Linked DNA regions of Homo sapiens: region 2 is linked to region 1. The links come from fine-mapping of genetic effects on gene expression. Tissue or cell type: lymphoblastoid cells. Region 1 holds a variant in brackets; the other region holds the start of a gene. All regions are shown on one strand. Distances are between the middles of the regions.

The links. PIP is the estimated chance that this variant, and not a neighbour inherited with it, causes the effect.
Region 2: BBX starts here. The variant in region 1 is fine-mapped to the expression of BBX in lymphoblastoid cells (GEUVADIS, PIP 0.95).

The regions. Positions count from the first base shown.
Region 1 is chr3:106,597,031-106,605,594 of GRCh38, reverse strand. The region is part of intron 2 of LOC101929485 (a long non-coding RNA gene); the gene reads left to right. Among named protein-coding and RNA genes, the nearest start is that of LINC00882, 640 kb to the left of the region's middle. The variant A/G (reference allele first, on the strand shown) is at 4,600.
Region 2 is chr3:107,519,571-107,527,852 of GRCh38, reverse strand. It overlaps BBX (BBX high mobility group box domain containing), which reads right to left and starts at 4,891. Exons shown (of 18, transcript NM_001142568.3): 1 at 4,746-4,891; 2 at 1,455-1,526. RefSeq lists enhancers at 2,302-2,351, 5,225-5,274 and silencers at 2,552-2,761, 4,215-4,284, 4,395-4,484, 4,515-4,824.

The sequences.
Region 1 (8,564 bases):
GGTTGTCCATCTTCATACTTTCTCTAACAAAAACATATATATTTTGAAAGTATTCAATTAAATAAGTTATTTGCTTATTATGATGTGATAGACATTGTGATTTATTGTTGTATGGTAAGCACTCTTATAAAGGTACTTATGAAGGTACAACTGAACTTTGTTAGAAATTGGTGAATTGTTTAACAGTGGTAAATTATGCATTGCAATTGTTTGAAAGTGACAAATTAACCAAAGAGGTTAATAGTTTTCAAACAACTATTATAACATATAAAACGTTTCCAATAAGTACATTATTAAGGCTTAAAGTGAAAGGGACTATAATTTATAGAGGCATAGTGAGCCTTAAGCTAATCTTTAAAAAAGGTATATCTTCTCTCTTCTACCATGCAATACTATTTTTTTTTAAAGATAGAGACAGAGGAGTGATGTCAGCAAGATAACCAACTATGTTTGACTGGAGTGACTGGGGAAATATACTAAAGAGTGCCAGGGGAGTGGCAAAATTCCTGCGGAGCACAAAATCTCAGAATAAAACAATAGAAGGGGAGCAAGGTATCCTGCCTCTGACAAACTGTCTCTCCAACGAAATCAGTTTGGAGTCAGAGAGCCTTCTTACAAAGAAGGAATAAGCTGGAGATCCCCAATGGCTCTCACTGCTGCCATAAATGCCAGAAATTCTTGCTACAGGAGAGGCCCCAAATCCTAGTAGATTGTGAATCCAGCTTAGAGAGTAGCTGGGAGTACAGGTAGCTGCGTCATATCAGAGTAGAAGCCCACCTTGAACATCCCCATCCTCACAACCTAAGCTGCTATGGCATAGGACCATCTTGAAACCAAACCCACTGCTAGGATGTGCCCTGATCTGGGGACTAGTGGCAACTGACTCTCCATGTCCCTGAGACCCTGCTGTTATTCCACCATGTTCATGCAGGTGCCTGTAGCACCATGACCCCAGTTGCATGGAACTTAGGCAAGATGAAACAACTGAGACCAAAGTGTCGAAACCCATGCAGCACCCCACCCTTCCAGAGAACTGGCAGATCTGCACAGCAGGGAAGCTATTGAACAGCAGCTGGCCCACTGAACACACATGCACCAATGCTTGGCTAAACAGCTTGCACAGTGGCAGTCCTACCTCCCTGAGAAAACTGCCACACAGCCACCCAGCCTCACCTGACCCATGCACACCTATGCCCAGCCTGACAGCTGATTTGGCAGTGGCTCACCTTCTTGAGCATATAACTGTAGAGTTTCCTGGCTCCATTTTACCCATACCTACTCATGCCTGGCATGATAACTGTTCTAATGGCAGCCCAACCTCCCCAGGGAGACTACCACAGAACCATATGGCCCAGCCACACCTGGACTCTCATGCTCAGCTTGAAGTTCTGTCTGGAAGCAGTTCTGTCTTTCCAGAGAGACTGCTACAAAGCCTCCCAGGCAACTGTGTCCATGTGTGCAGCAATTCCTACCTCCCCAGAGAGCCCACTGGGCAGCCTATTGGCCCTTTGCCGCATCACATACCTAACCCACAACCAACCAGCACCCACATCCCCAGCAAACACACACCATTAGCTTCAAAAACTTCTGCATTTGAGGCAACTAAACGAACTGTAGAAATTAATGATGAAGATTACAGATGAAGAAACTGCACAAGGACCATGCTACTGAGTTTACTCAGAACCAAAGCCAATGCATCAAACCCAACTAATACCCTAAAACCCATCTATAGGAAAAAGTCTCTTCCTAAGAAAGGTACTCTGGATAACTTGAAAAAGTGACTGTTCCACTAAATGCACAGATATCAATGTTGGAACACAAGAAAGCAAGGAACGCAAAAAGCAAGGAAAGATGACAGCCCCAAAGAAACAATAAGTTTTCAGACACTGACCCCAAAGAAAAGAACATTTACAAAATGCCTGAAAAGAAATTCAAAATTATGATCTTAAGGAAACTCAGTGAGATGCAAGAGAACACAGACAAGCAAATAAAAAAAAATCAGGAAAACTATCCATAATCTGAATAAGAAATTCAATAAAGAAAGATATCATAAAAAAGAAACAAAAAGGATTATTAGAGCTGAAAAATTTAAACAATAAGATAAAAAATACAATTAAGAGCATTGACAACTGAGTAGATTAAGTAGAAATAAAGTTTTCTTAACTTGAACACAGGTCTTTTGAAATAATGTAGTCAGAGAAAAAAATCATCAAAAATAAAAAAAGAATAAAGAAAGCCTAAAAACATATGGAAAACCATTTAGAGAACAAATATTTGCATTATAGGAGTTTGAGAATAAGAAAAGAAGGGAAGTGGCATAGGAAAGTTATATAATGATATAATAACTGAAAACTTTCCAAGAATTAGGAGAGATACAACATCAAATTGAGGAAGCTCAAAAGTTCCAAAATAGATTTAACCCTAAAAGGTTCTCTTTGAGGCCCATTATGATTAAATTATAAAAAGTCAAAGACAAAGAGAATTATAAAAGCTGAAAGAGAAAATCCTCAGGTCACATACAAGAGAATCTTCATTAGACTATCAGCATATTTCTCAGAAGAAGCCTTGCAGGTTAGGAGAGAAGGAAATTGTATATTAAAAGTGCTCAGAGTAAAAAGAAACAAAAACAAAACAAAACAAAAACCCTGATAGTCAAGAATACTATATCCAGCAAAGCTATTCTTCAAAAAAAAAGGAGAAATAAGATTTTTACAGATAAGTGAAACCTGAAAGAATTCATCATTTCTGGAGCAGCCCTACAAGAAATGCTTAAGACAGTGCTCTAACTGAAAATGAAAGGACAATAATTACTACTATAAAAATATGTGAAAGTACAAAACTCACCAGTATAGGTAAATTCATAAATCAAACTCAGAATACCCCAGTGATGCACTGGTGTACTAATGCACTGGTAAATCTTTCAATACTCTAGTATAAAAGTTTAAAGTCAATACGATCAAAAACAATAACAGTTACAATGGGTAACTGTTGGAAATACAATAGATAAAGAAGTAAATTAAGGCAACAAAAATATAAATTGTGAGAGGGGAAGGAAAATGTCTACAGTATTTTTACACAACCAAAGTTAAGTTGCTATCAACTTAAAATAGTCTATTATAACTACAAGACTCGTTATATTAGCCCCATGGTAGCCACAACAAAATAAACTTACAGCAGATATATAAATGATACATAGAAATAAAACAATGAAAACCATAGAAAACTACCAAACCACAGAGGTAAACAACAAGAGAGGAAGAAAGAAACAAAAGATCTATAAAACAACCAGAAAGCTATTAACAAAATGGAAAGAATAAATTCTTACCTATCAATAATAATCTTGAATGAAAATAGATTAAATCCTCCATTTAAAAGATAGAGGCTGGATGAAAATAAAAATACTTAACTATATGTTGCTAATGAGAGACTCACCTCATTGTTAAAGACAAACATAAACTTAAAGTGAAGGAATGGAAAAAGATATTTCATGTAAGTTGAAATAAAAAGCAAGCAGAAGTAGCAATACTTATATCAGATACAATAGACTCTAAGTTAAAAACTGCAAAAAGAGACAAAGAAGGTCATTATATAATGATAAAGGGATTGATTCAGCAAGAGAATATAATAATTGTAAATACGTCTGCAGCAAATACTGGAGCACCCAGTTATACAAAGCAAATATTATTGGAATTAAAGGGAAAAATGGACTGCAATACAATAAAAGTGGAGGTCTTCACTACCACACTTTCAGCAATAGTTACATCATCTAGGCAGAAAAACAACAAAGAAGCATTGAATTTAAACTGCACCATAGACCAAATGGACCTAACAGATATTTACAGAACATTCCATCCAACAGCTGTGAAATACACATTCTTCTGAACTGCACACAGAACTTACTCAAGAGTAGATCCCATGTTATGCCACAAAAGAAGTCTTATAAAATTTATGAAGATAGGCCGGGCACGGTGGCTCACGCCTGTAATCCCAGCACTTTGGGAGGCCAAGGCAGGCAGATCACAAGGTCAGGAGATTCAGACCATCCTGGCTAACGCAGTGAAACCCCGCCTCTACTAAAAATACAAAAAAATTAGCCAGGCGTGGTGGTGGGCACCTGTAGTCCCAGCTACTAGGGAGGCTGAGGCAGGAGAATGGCATGAACCCGGGAGGAGGAGCTTGCAGTGAGCCGAGACTGTGCCATTGCACTCCAGCCTGGGTGACAGAGCAAGACTCCATCTCAAAAAAAAAAAAAAAAAATGAAGATAGAGGTTATATCAAGCATCTTTTCTGATCACAATAGTATAAAACTAGAAATCAACAACAGTATAACATGCAAAGTGTAAAAATACATAGAAATAAACAATATACTTCTAAAGAACCAATAGATCAATGAAAAAAAAGTTTTAATTTTTGTTTCTGAGTGTACATGTGCAGGTTTGTTACATGTGTAAATTGCATATTGCTGAGGTTTTTTGGTGTACGAATGATGCTGTCACCAAGGTAGTGAACACAGTAACTGATAAGTACCCTTCCAACCCACACTCTGCATTCCTACCATCCTTCCTAAAGCACTCCCCAATGTCTATTGTTTCTTTTTGG[A/G]TGTCCATGTATATTCAGTGGTTAGCTCCTACTTATAGGTGAGAGCATGTGGTATTTGGTTTTCTATTCCCGTGTTACTTCACTTAGAATAAGTGTCTCCACCTACATCCTTGTTGCTGCAAAGGACATGAATTTATCCTTTTTCCATTATTGTGTAGTTTTCCATGTTGTATGTATCCACATATTCTTTATCCAGTTCATATAGACAAGCATGGTGGTTTATTCCATGTATTTGCTATTGTGAATATTTCTGTAGTGAACATAAAAGTACATATGTCTTTTTAGTAGAAATTTTTATTTTCCTTTGAGTATATACCCAATAGTGGGAGAGCTGGGTCAAATGGTAGCTCTGAACTTATCTGAGTTCTTTGCTAAATCTCCACACTGTTTTCCACAGTGGCTAACTAATTTAACATTCCCACCAGCAGTGTATAAGTGTTCCCTTTTCTCTGCAACCTTGCCAGCATCTGTCGTTTTTCGACTTTTTAATAATTGCCATTCTGACTGGTGTGAGATGGTTTCTTATTGTGGTTTTGCTTTGCATTTCTCTAATGATTAGTAATAATGAGCATATTGCTTGTTGACTGCACGTATGTCTTCTTTTGCAAAGTCTCTGTTAATGTCCTTTGTCTATTTTTTTTAAATGGGGCTACTTGTTTTTTGCTTATTGAAAAGTTCCATATAGATTCTGAGTATTAGACCTTGTTGGATGCATAGTTTGCAAATACTTTCTCGCATTCTGTAGGTTGTGTGTTTTCTCTATTGATAGTTTCTTTTGCTTTGAAGAAGCTCCTTGGCTTAATTAGGTCCCACTTGTTGATTTTTGTTGTTGTTGCAATTGCTTTTGAGAACTTAGTAATAAATTCTTTGCCACCATGTCTAGAATGGTATTTCCTAGATTTTCATCTAGGGTTTTTATCATTTGGGGTCTTACATTTAATCTTTAATACACCTAGATTTAATTTTTGTCTGTGTTTAAAGTAAGGAGTCCAGTTTCAATCTTCTACATATGGCTAGCCAGTTATTCCAGCACCATATATTGAATAGGAAGTCCTTCCTCTATTATTTATAATTGTTGACTTTATCAAAGATCAGGTGATTGTAGATATGTGGCTTTATTTCTGTGTTCCCTATTAAGTTTCATTGGTCTATGTGTCTGTTTCGATACCAGTAGCATTCTGTTTTGATTACTGTAGACTTGTAATATAGTTTGAAGTTAGATAAAAGCTAATTCAACACAATCAAGTAGGCTTTATTTCTCAGATGCAAGGTTGCTTTAATATATGCAAATTATTAAATGTAATTTACCACATAAACAGAATTAACAACAATACCCATGTAATCATCTCAACAGATTCAGAAAAGGCCTTTGATAAAATTCAACATTCCCTCATGTTAGAAATTCTCAACAAATTTGGCATCAAAGGAACATACCTCAAAATAATAAGAGCCATTTAAAACAAACCCACAGCCAACATCATACTGAATGGGCAAAATTTGGAAGCATTCCCTTTGAAAAGTAGAACAAGGCAAGGATGCTCACTCTCACCACTCCTATTCAACATAGTACTGAAAGCCCTAGCCGGAACAATCAGGCAAGAGAAAAAAATAAAATACATTCGAACAGAAAGCAAGGAAGTCAAACTATCTCTCTTTATAGACAATATGATTCTATAACTAGAAAACCCCATAGACTCTGCCAGAAGGCTTCTAGAACTGATAAACAACTTCAGTAAATTTTCAGGATACAAAATCAATGTACCCACATCAGTAGCATTTCTATACACAAATAATGTTCAAACTTAGAGCCAAATCAAGAATGCAATCCCACTTTCAATAGCCACAAAAAGAATAAAATACCTAGACATACAGCATACAATGAGATGAAAGACTCTACAACAAGAATTACAAAACACTACTGAAATAAATCAGAGATGACACAAATAAATGGAAAAACATCTCATGCTCATGAATAGGAAAAATCAATATTGTTAAAATGGCCATAGTGCCCAAAGCAATTTACACATTCAATGCTATTCCTATAAAACCACCAACATCATTTTTCACAGAATTAAAAAAAAAAAAGTCTAAAATTCACATGGAATCAAAAAGAAGCCTGAACTGCCAAAGCAATTCTAAGCAAAAAGAACAAAGCCAGAGGCATCACGATAAGGAAATTGAAAGGAAAATTTAAAAATTTCTTGAGACAAATAAGAATGGAAAAACATCATATCAAGACAGAGCAAGAGCATTTCTAAGAGCAAAATTTATAGCAATAAATGCCAACATCAATAAAAAAGAAAGATTTGTAATAAACAACCTAACATTGTACTCCAGGAAACTGGAAAAACAAAAACAAACTGAAACCAAAGTTGGTAGAAAGAAGGAAATAATAAAAATTAGAGCAAAAATAATTGAAATAGAGACTGAAACAATTCAAAAGACTAATAAAATGAAGAGTTTGTTTTTTGGAAAAAAAAATTGACAAAGTTTTAGGTAGAATAGTAAAAAACACTCTAAAACCAGAGATTAAAAAAGACACATTATGGACTGGTGCAGTGGCTCACACCTGTAATCCCAGCACTTTGGGAGGCCGAGGTGGGTGGATCACCTGAGGTCAGGAGTTGAGACCAGCCTGCCCAATATGGCAAAACCCCGTCTCTACTAAAAATACAAAAAATTAGCCAGGCGTGGTAGTGGGTGCCTGTAATTCCAGCTACTCGGGAGGCTGAGGCAGGAGAATCACTGGAACCCAGGAGGCGGAGGTTGCAGTGAGCTGAGATTTCACCACTGCACTCCAGCCTGGGCAACAAGAGTAAAATACAACTGATAAACACAGAGATATAAAGGCTTATAAGAGACTATTTTGAATAATGATATTGCAAACAAATTTGATAACCTAGAAGAAGTAGATAAATTCCTGAACACATAAACTACCAAGATTAAATAATGAGGAAATAGAAAATCTGAAAAGACTAAAAATGAGTGAGAATATGGAGTCAGTAATAAAAAGCCTTTCATTGAAGAAAAGTTGAGGATCTGAGAAGTACACTTCTGAATTCTATAGAACATTTAAGAAAGAATTAATATTGATTCTCCTCAAAGTATTTCAGAAAATTGAAGAGAAATATATTATTCCAAACTCATTTTATGAGGCCAGTATTATCCTGAGTCCAAAATCTGACAAAGACATGACAAAAAAGACTACTACAGGCTAAGATCTCTGCTAAATATAGATGCAAAAATTCTAAACAAGATATTGGCAAGCCAAATTCAATAGCCCATTAAAAAGATTATTCACTGTGATCAAGTGTGACTTATTCCAGGATGCAAGAATGATCTAACACATGAAAATCAATAAATGTGATACACCACATGAACAGAAAGAAAGACAAAAACAATATAATAATTTTGAGACACTGAAAATGCATTCAGCAACATCCAACATCCCTCTATAATAGAATCTCTTAACAAGTGGGCATAGAAAGTATGTTGCTCAAGACAATAAAAGCCGTATATGTCAAACTCAATAGTTAACCTCACACTGAGTGGATAAAAGCTGAATGCTTTCTCTCTAAGATGAAGAATAAGACAAGAATTCTCACTTTCAGCACTTCTGTTCAAAATAAGAATGGAAGTTCTAGCTAGAGCAATCAGGCAAGATAAAAGAAATAAAAGGCATACACACTGAAGGGGAGTACTTAAATTTGTTCCTGTTTTCAAAAACCTGATCCTAAAATTCATATGGAGCCACAAAAGATACCAAATAGAAAACAAACCTAAGCAAAAAGAACAAAGATGGAGGCATCATGCTTCCTGACTTGAAAATATACTATAAAGCTATAATAATGAAAACAGCATGGTACTGGCATAAAAACAGACACATAGACCATTAGAACAGAATAGAGAGCCCAGAAATAAATTCACACACCGACAGCCAACTGATTTGTGACAATGTTGCCAAG
Region 2 (8,282 bases), 920 kb before region 1:
GCCCAAAATGAAACTTTTCAAACAAGCTTTAAAAAAACTCAAAGACAATGAAATCCATGTATTTTAGTGTGCACTAAATTCAACTTATAGAACCTTCTCATTTTGACACTCCGATTGGCCTGCTATGTATGTGATGTATTCTGAGCTCTTAGTGAACAAACCACCTAATTATCAGCAGTAATGCAATATTTATATTCCATAGAAAATGTTCGATGCAAAACATATACAGATTATCTAAAGTTCTCTAGATTTTCTAAATGTTCAATGCAAAACTTACATAGATTATCTAAAGTCTTCAATAACATGAAAGTATATTTTGTTACCAAATGGACACTACCAGAAAGGTCTAGTCCTCTAACTCAATACTAAGACAACAGTTTTATATTCTTAATACAAAGACAATAATTTTGTTAATGTACACATTATGTCAGCAATCCAGGAAACACCACAGATGAGGTCTCTAAATTTTCTTTCACAGAAAAGTAAGTTCAAGTTCATTTTCATTCACAAAATACAATCTCTAAATTCACTATGGTAATATTACAAAGCACTACAGCTGATTTACACAATTTAGTACTAGTTTCCAAACATCAACAACTCAAGAGTACCTGGGGTGTTCCTTTACAATGGAGGGGCAAACTTACAAGGTGGTTTTCTGCAGATTAGGCTCACTGTGCTGCTTTCAAATGCTCTGTAAACCCTCAGTTCTTACCCACACTGTTACCTCTCACAAATTTTCCACACACTTACTGTCCCACACATATTTTGCAGATTTTTCCACTTGGGAGTCATATATCTGAAAAAGGCACTTAACAACAGATCTCAAAGTCTTTGTTTATTAAATTTACAGGCTACCGAATTGTTCCTAATTTCTCCAAACATGTAAGTTTTAAAAGAAATTATGATCAATTTTGAATCAAATTAGTGCACTAAACGCTAGATTTACCACACTGCCAATCCCACCTTTCCCCACCCCAAAAGTAACTGTTACAAACACCACAGGTTACTCAAGAAAGAGAACTTGAGAGAGAGTAAGCAAATGTCAGTCACTATAATTAGAGGACTTCTGCACAATGCTTCCTTGGGTTTTTAATAATTCTCTCCACTCATACACTGCACTCTTCCTATAGTATTGTCTAGCATTAAATTTACTAGACCTTCAATGCCATGTAAAATTTCATTATAAATTAAAATGTCTATTTGAGAATAAGTTTTGAAACGACAATTACTTGTAGATAAACACAAAATGAATATTTACTATCTTAATAATAACCCACAGCTGAATTCTAAACACTAAGAATCATAAACTGACTTATGCTGTGGGAAACTCAGTGAGACAAGGTTTCTGGGGTGCTGTAACCCCAATAAAGCATCTTCCTCTGTGAACAATAAAGACCCTTATGTCATTACTAATTGTCATCCTGCTTCCCTGTACGAACAGTTTGCATACTTACCCAGGAAGGCAAATGGAAAGTACACAGGGAGGAAGATGAACTGCGGCAAAGCCTTTGTCATATGATAGTGACCTATAAAGTATCAAATAAAGGTACATCATCAGTATAGTAGGGCTTTACAATAGTACAGTCCCAAGTCCTGTAACATCTATGAAGAGAAGGTACCAAAACCCAGGAGTCCAGCTCCCACTAACCCCTCCCCTTTCTCTACCACCCCCCGACACTGGAGAACTGTGGGAACAGAAGGCAAAGAAGCTCCCCGTATTGAAAGGGCAGAGGCTGGGGGGCAACCCAACTGGCATTCTAGGGTATCTCCCGTACCCTCGCTTCCTACTCCCCACATGTACAAAGCAGAAAGTTGATCCATTCTGCAAACGCAAAAACCACACCGCGATCATTCATCAACTTGCACAAGTGATCACCGCCCCCAGGACAAACACACCAGTAACCAAATCATAGGGATCGATAGGCAGCCCGAGCCTCGCCTTGCCCAGGAGACGGCGGGAGGTGCCACCGCGGCGGCAGCGGGTCCAGGTATCGAAGCCCTCAGCCTTTCAGACCTGGGCGGCCACTGCCGTCTCCCAAACACCCAGCCCGGGTCACAATCCCCAGATTGGAGATAGGAACCGACCAGGGAAAACACATTCGCCAAAGCCCACAGCGGCAAGTGCAGGGCCACCAGGTCTGCGAGGTCGGGGTGGGGGGAGCTAGGAAACAAGGAGGGAGGAAGAGAGCGAGGGATCCCACCCCGGCTTTGTTGCTGGTCACCATCAAGTTTGCATCTTAGTACAAAATGTCGATCTTAAAGGCTGACAAGACAGAGGCAGAGGCAGTGGGAGAAAGAGAAAGGGAATAGAGTCCATCTTGCTTTGGGAAAGAGGGGGGAAGAAAAAATGAAGTGCAAATACCACACTCCGGGCGTAAAAGTCTGCTAAACACCTTTCCATAACGGAGGAGCAACGAGTGGGGTGTCCCCGTGCCCGTGCCTGCTCGAACTGGCGGCGGTCTGGGCAGAAAACGCCTCCCTCTCCTCCTCTTCCTCCTTCTTCCCCTCCTCCTTCTCCCTCTCCTCCTCCTCCTCCCGCGGGCCCCGGCGAAGATCCCGCCGCCACTGCCTCTGCCTCCGCTGCCCCCCAGGGAGGCACCGCCGGCGCCCGGCCCGGCGCTGCCATTCCGGGCTTGGACCGCGCGGCGCAGAGCGCGTGGGGCCGGACCCGGGGTGGCCGCGCGGGGACGTCGGCGCCGGGGACCCCCGGCGCCCCTGGGCCGCTGGCTGCCTACAAAAGTCGCGCGAGCAGAGGTGGCGGCGGCGCGCAGGGGCGGGGGGCCGCGTGGGGGCCCCCACGCCGCCAGTGGGCAACCCCAGGAGATGGCGAAGAACGCCCCTCCCCGCGCGGGGAAAGTACCCCAGTCCCAGTCAGCCACCCCGGGAACGGCAGCCCGGCGTCCGCGGCCGGGAGAAGAGAACTGGACGTGTCATTAGCAGGACAGGCAATGGTTTCAAAGCCCCAGGCCAATGACCATTAGCAGAGGCAGAGCTCGCTCCGTCCCCATCCCCCACAACCTCCACCCACCTTCCCCTTCGCCCCCCCCCCCACCTCCACCCCACCTCGCGAAACTTTTCAACAAGATCCACCTGGACTAATTTGTCCACAGACAGTTAAAATATTGACTAGACCCTACACACTGGGAAGGAAGGGGAATGCACGCTTTATTTTCCTTCCTACAGAAAGGAAAGCAAAAAATAGCTTCTCTCTCTGTCTCTCCCTCTCCCCCCCCCCCCCTCTGTCGTACATGTTGTGTCTTAGCTTTTTGCATCGTTTCGTTTTACCTTCCTCATTTAGCAGAAATGATCGCGGCTATTTCACACATAAACGTGTTCCAGATTCTGGGATTCAGGGTCCTTGTAAATTACAGGACTCGGGTTCGGTCTCAGTTATGTTAAGTTTCATACAATACCAAAAAATAAATAAAATATGATAATAAATTTCAGAGGGTGAGTGAGCGAGACGAGGTGGAGGAGGAAAAGAAACCTCGAGTCTGATTTCTGTAATTTACTAGCGACCCGGATCGCAGCAAATAACAGTGTAACACGAGTGTGGCTTAAGAGGGCTAGGGAGCTCTTTCTAGAGGCATCGACCCCATCCCCGGATAAAGGATCTGCAAGTTTTCTGTCATCGCGACCAGGCAAAGCCGTAACTTACCTTCAGAAATAAGACTTTAAACGGCCAAGGCCTTCCTCCTCCCCTCCACCACCACCCTCAGCCTCGCTCTCTCCACCTTAAACTTATTGACACAACATAATCCCACATTCAAGCAAAATCCTGACACAGCCTCCCTCCTCCTCTTCCCCCTCCTCTCTTCCCTCCCGTTCTCTCTCTCCCTCTCTCTCTGTCTCCCTCTCTCCCCCCCCTTCCCTCCCTCTTCTCTCTCCCCTTCTCCCTCGCCCTCTTCCCCCTCTCCCCCTATTCTTCCTCCAGGCTACTCTGGCACTAAAACAGCACTTTCTCTACTCGCCGCGCATTTGGGTAGGGGTGGGGGGTGAGAGGGCACTGATCTGCGGGGCCGGAACACCCAAATCCCAACTCTCCAGATGAACGAGCAACTGGGCTGCTGTTCCCGGTCACCAACGCAGACGAAACGTTCAATAAATCCACCGAAGGCTGGCTCCTCGTACCTTCCTCCACTGCCCCTGCTCCCCAGGCCCCACCTCCCCGGCAGCCGAGACCAGGCAGGGCTCCACGTACTTTCGCCGAGATGAAGTTTGGGGCTCCCCGGGCGGCCACGAGCCGCCCGCCGGCGTGAGGGCTCTGTTGTTGTTTTCCTGGGGCCGCTCCAGCCCGCGCCCCGGCGCCCGTGCCCCTCTCAGGCGGCGCTGCCTGTGTGCCGAGAGGTGCTGGTTGCAAACGCAGCCTGGCACCGGCTGGCCTACTACTCCCCAGCCCGGCCCCCAGCCTCCCGCTCGCAGGGCACTGCCTCAGCGCCCCCCGCCCCCCGGCCCCAGCCGGCGCGGCCGCCGCGACCCTCGCCCCCGACCTCTCCCGACCCAAAGTTTTGGCGGAGGGGGAAAGTGCCCAGGGAGCGGGCCGGCTGGCGGCGGCTCCGGACGCGCGGGGTTCCCTCCGTCTTCCTCAAGTCCACCCTACCGGCTGCCGCCGCCGCCGCCGCCGCCGCCGCCGCTGCTCCTGCCGCGGAGTCCTTGGGGCTGCAGCCCGGCGGCTCGCAAGTGAGTAGGAAAACAGAAAGTGAGGGGAGTGCGCCCAGGGAGGGCTGGGGATGGGGGGCGCCTACCTCGCGGGCTCGCCGGGCGTGAGGGCGTGTGTGTAGCTAGCCCTCAGCGGCCAGTCAGGGTTTCTCTATGGGAAAGTGGAGAGAAGCTCGCGGAGCCGCTCTGCCTCCGCTTCACTGTACACTGCTCCACATACAGTACATGCAACCCGGAGAGACTGAAAACACTCATTTTATATAAGGCAGCCTGCCATTGGCCCGCGCAGTGACGGACAGGCCGCGCAGCCAAACAAGAGGCCCGTTACACCCAAACACACGCACACATACACACATTTTACAGAGACACACAAAGATCATCACATTTTCTATTTTCTAATGTTCGGGACCTGTAGACAGTAGGAGAGGACAGGTAAAGAGGCCCAGCAGAGTGGGGTAAAGGGGAAAACCCCTGTCTGCACCAAGTTGCAAGGCTTGAAACTGGTGTCCTTTTGACTTGGGAGGGTTATGGTAATAAACTACAACTCCACTGGATATGGAAGTGAGGGGGGTTTTTCATCGCTGCCTTTTGGTGCCCCATGGAAGAGGCCTGCATTGTGTTACGATTTTACAGCCTGACCCGGCTAACAAGTGGCCAAGAAAGGCTTTTATCACCTTGGATTTCTTTTGTCAATGGGTTAGCTATCACATAGGCCAAAATAGTGCAAGATAAGTTTATCAGGACTCTAATGCATTGAGGTTGTTAGTGCCTCATTCGTAGGTAGATTCAAAAAAATCAATATAACAACACACAAAGATAAACATTTTGCTGAAATAGCCAAACAACTTTTAACTGGTCAGTGGACTGCCATCACCTGTGTGGACATGCAAACTGTGCTGTTAGGTAAAATAAGTCATGGAAGATTGGCTATTGACCCTTAGCCTTCAAAACAGACCTTTGATTCAATATATACATGATTTATATTTTGCATATTATATATAAAAATATATGACTCTTTACATATTTCACATCTCATGTGAACATCATATGTTGCATGACTTTTGGAGATGATGAACCTCAGGACTGGTCTTTCTGATTGTTTTTCAACAATGCAACTTCAGAAGATTATATGAGACAGTTCAATACACATAAGTCAACAGGTTGGTGGAAAGAAGTCAAAGCTGGAAATTAGAAGGAATAAATTGTAGATTAAACTCTTTAACCAGCTGAGCAATCTTGAGCAAGTTACTTAACCTCTCCAATGCTCAGACTTGGTTTTGATTTTTAAGATTAAAATAAGAAGCTTTTCCAGATTCCCTCAATTAAATGTTTATTCAGCATCTACTATGTGTCAGGCATTATCTTAGGCCTAGATGTTTTCTTAGGGTTCCTTCCGTTTTAAGAGTTGGTGAATTATTCTCAAATACAAACATTTTGGAGATTACATAAACACTACGATTTTATGGCCTAGGTAAGTAGCTTTAAAACTTAAAGAAAACCCAACTAGGGCAACTTATTTCAGTTCCCCTTTTATTTCCTTGATGCTGTCTTAAGGTTTTTCTCTCGCATCCATAAAGTTGTTAAAAGAGTGTATGTGTGCATGTGAGCACTCCTGTGTAAGAGGGAGAAAGAGAAACAAAATCAGAAAAGTTTAAAAAGTTCAGAAAACAAAGTGGTATTTAGAAATGTGATGTTTATTTTTTTAGAAAAATCATTTTTAAAAGGAAAAGTATATAAAAAATCACAGCATTTTATTTTATTTTATTTTTGAGATGGAGTCTAACCCTGTAGCCCAGGCTGGAGTTCAATGGCGTGATCTCAGCTCACTGCAACCTCCGCCTCCCGGGTTCAAGAGATTCTCCCACCTCAGCCTCCCGAGTAAGCTGGGACTACAGGCACCTGCCATCATGCCTGGCTAATTTTTGTATTTTTGTAGAGACAGAGTTTCACCATGTTAGTCAGGCTGGTCTCGAACTCCTGACCTCAGGTGGTCCACCTGCCTCGGCCTCCCAAAGTGTTGAGATTACAGGCATGAGCCACAGCGCCCAGCCAATCACAGCATTTTAAACAGATAATATCAAAGTTTGTATTAGGGGTGGGCGCGGTGGCTCACATCTGTAATCCCAGCACTTTGTGAGATGGAGGCGGGTGGATGACCTGAGGTCAGGAGTTCGAGACCAGCCTGTCCAACACGGTGAAACCCCCGTCTCTACTAAAAATACAAAAATTAGCTGAACGTAGTGGTGGCACCTGTAATCCCAGCTATTCGGGAAGCTGAGGCAGGAGAATCACTAGAACCCAGGAGGTGGAGGTTGCAGTGAGTACAGACTGCACCATTGCACTCCTGCCTGGGGGACAGGGCGAGACTCCGTCTCAAAAAAAAAAAAAAAGTCTATTAATGGCAGTTTCATTTAGTTGACACAAGGAACAAAATGTTCTTTATCCACACTACACTGCTCTGAGGTCAGTGCTAAGTATTATCACCTCTAGTTTACCCATAGGAGAAATGAGTCAGGGACAAGTTATATAGCCTGCTCCATATTGCACAGAATGATAATGAAGAAGGAACTTAAACCGAGGACTTTTAATACCCAGCACAGGTTTTGAGTAATTTGACAACCCTTCCCTCCAAATCATGAACTTCAGAGGCAAGAGGGAATTGGAGGGAAAACCAAAAAAACTTTCTTAGAATTTCACTGTGCTCCTTTTTGAAAAGGAAAAAAAGTCGACAGGAGTTGCTACATTTAATTGCAGAGTGAAGTGTTGTGCATTATTTGCTAGTAGAACTATGTTGTGAAAAATAGAAAAGCCTATCCTACTCCCCACTCTTATCCCCAACCTCCAACCATAGGAAAACATTCTTCATATTTTTATGGTCACAAGATATTTTTGTTGAATTACACTTAGCTTAGCAGAATTATTTAGAGGTACGGTCTTCAAACTTTTAGATCACACATTGCTATCAGTAAAATGTTTGAGCATGTAGTCTCAATATGTATATTCATGTACACATTAAAAATTCACCACTGGACCAGGCATCGTGGCTCACACCTGTAATCCCAGTGCTTTGGAAGGCCAAGGCAGGAGGACTGCTTGAGGCCAGGAGTTCAAGACCAACAGTTTGAGACCAGCCTGATCAAGATAGAGAGACACTGTCTCTACCAAAAAAGAAAAAAAAAATGCACCATTGCATAGATTATTATTTATTATTATAAATCATATATTTACAAAAACAAAATTTAAAAGCATGAGATAAAAAATAAATAAGAGTTTAATTTCTTCTATAGTCCATAGAAGTGTGGATTCCTATGATAGAGTCTTAGCACATGCCCCAGGACTTTGCATTCCAGTTTGGACACCTCTGAGAGTGCAAGGTGCTAACTGACCAAGACTGATGCAGAAGAACATAAAGTGTATTGCAGTGACTTCCTATGAGTCATTACTGCTACTAGAAAATTGTTAGGTCCACAGGCCTTCGGATTGAGAGAATGACACCTTTTTAAACACATATTATATATTGGTACCGTATTTCCATTGGGCGTCATGTTCCAGCATAAGCCATTTTTCAATATTCTTTGGCAGAATATTTATTGAGAGGGTTCCATGTGCTCTTGTGCATGTCA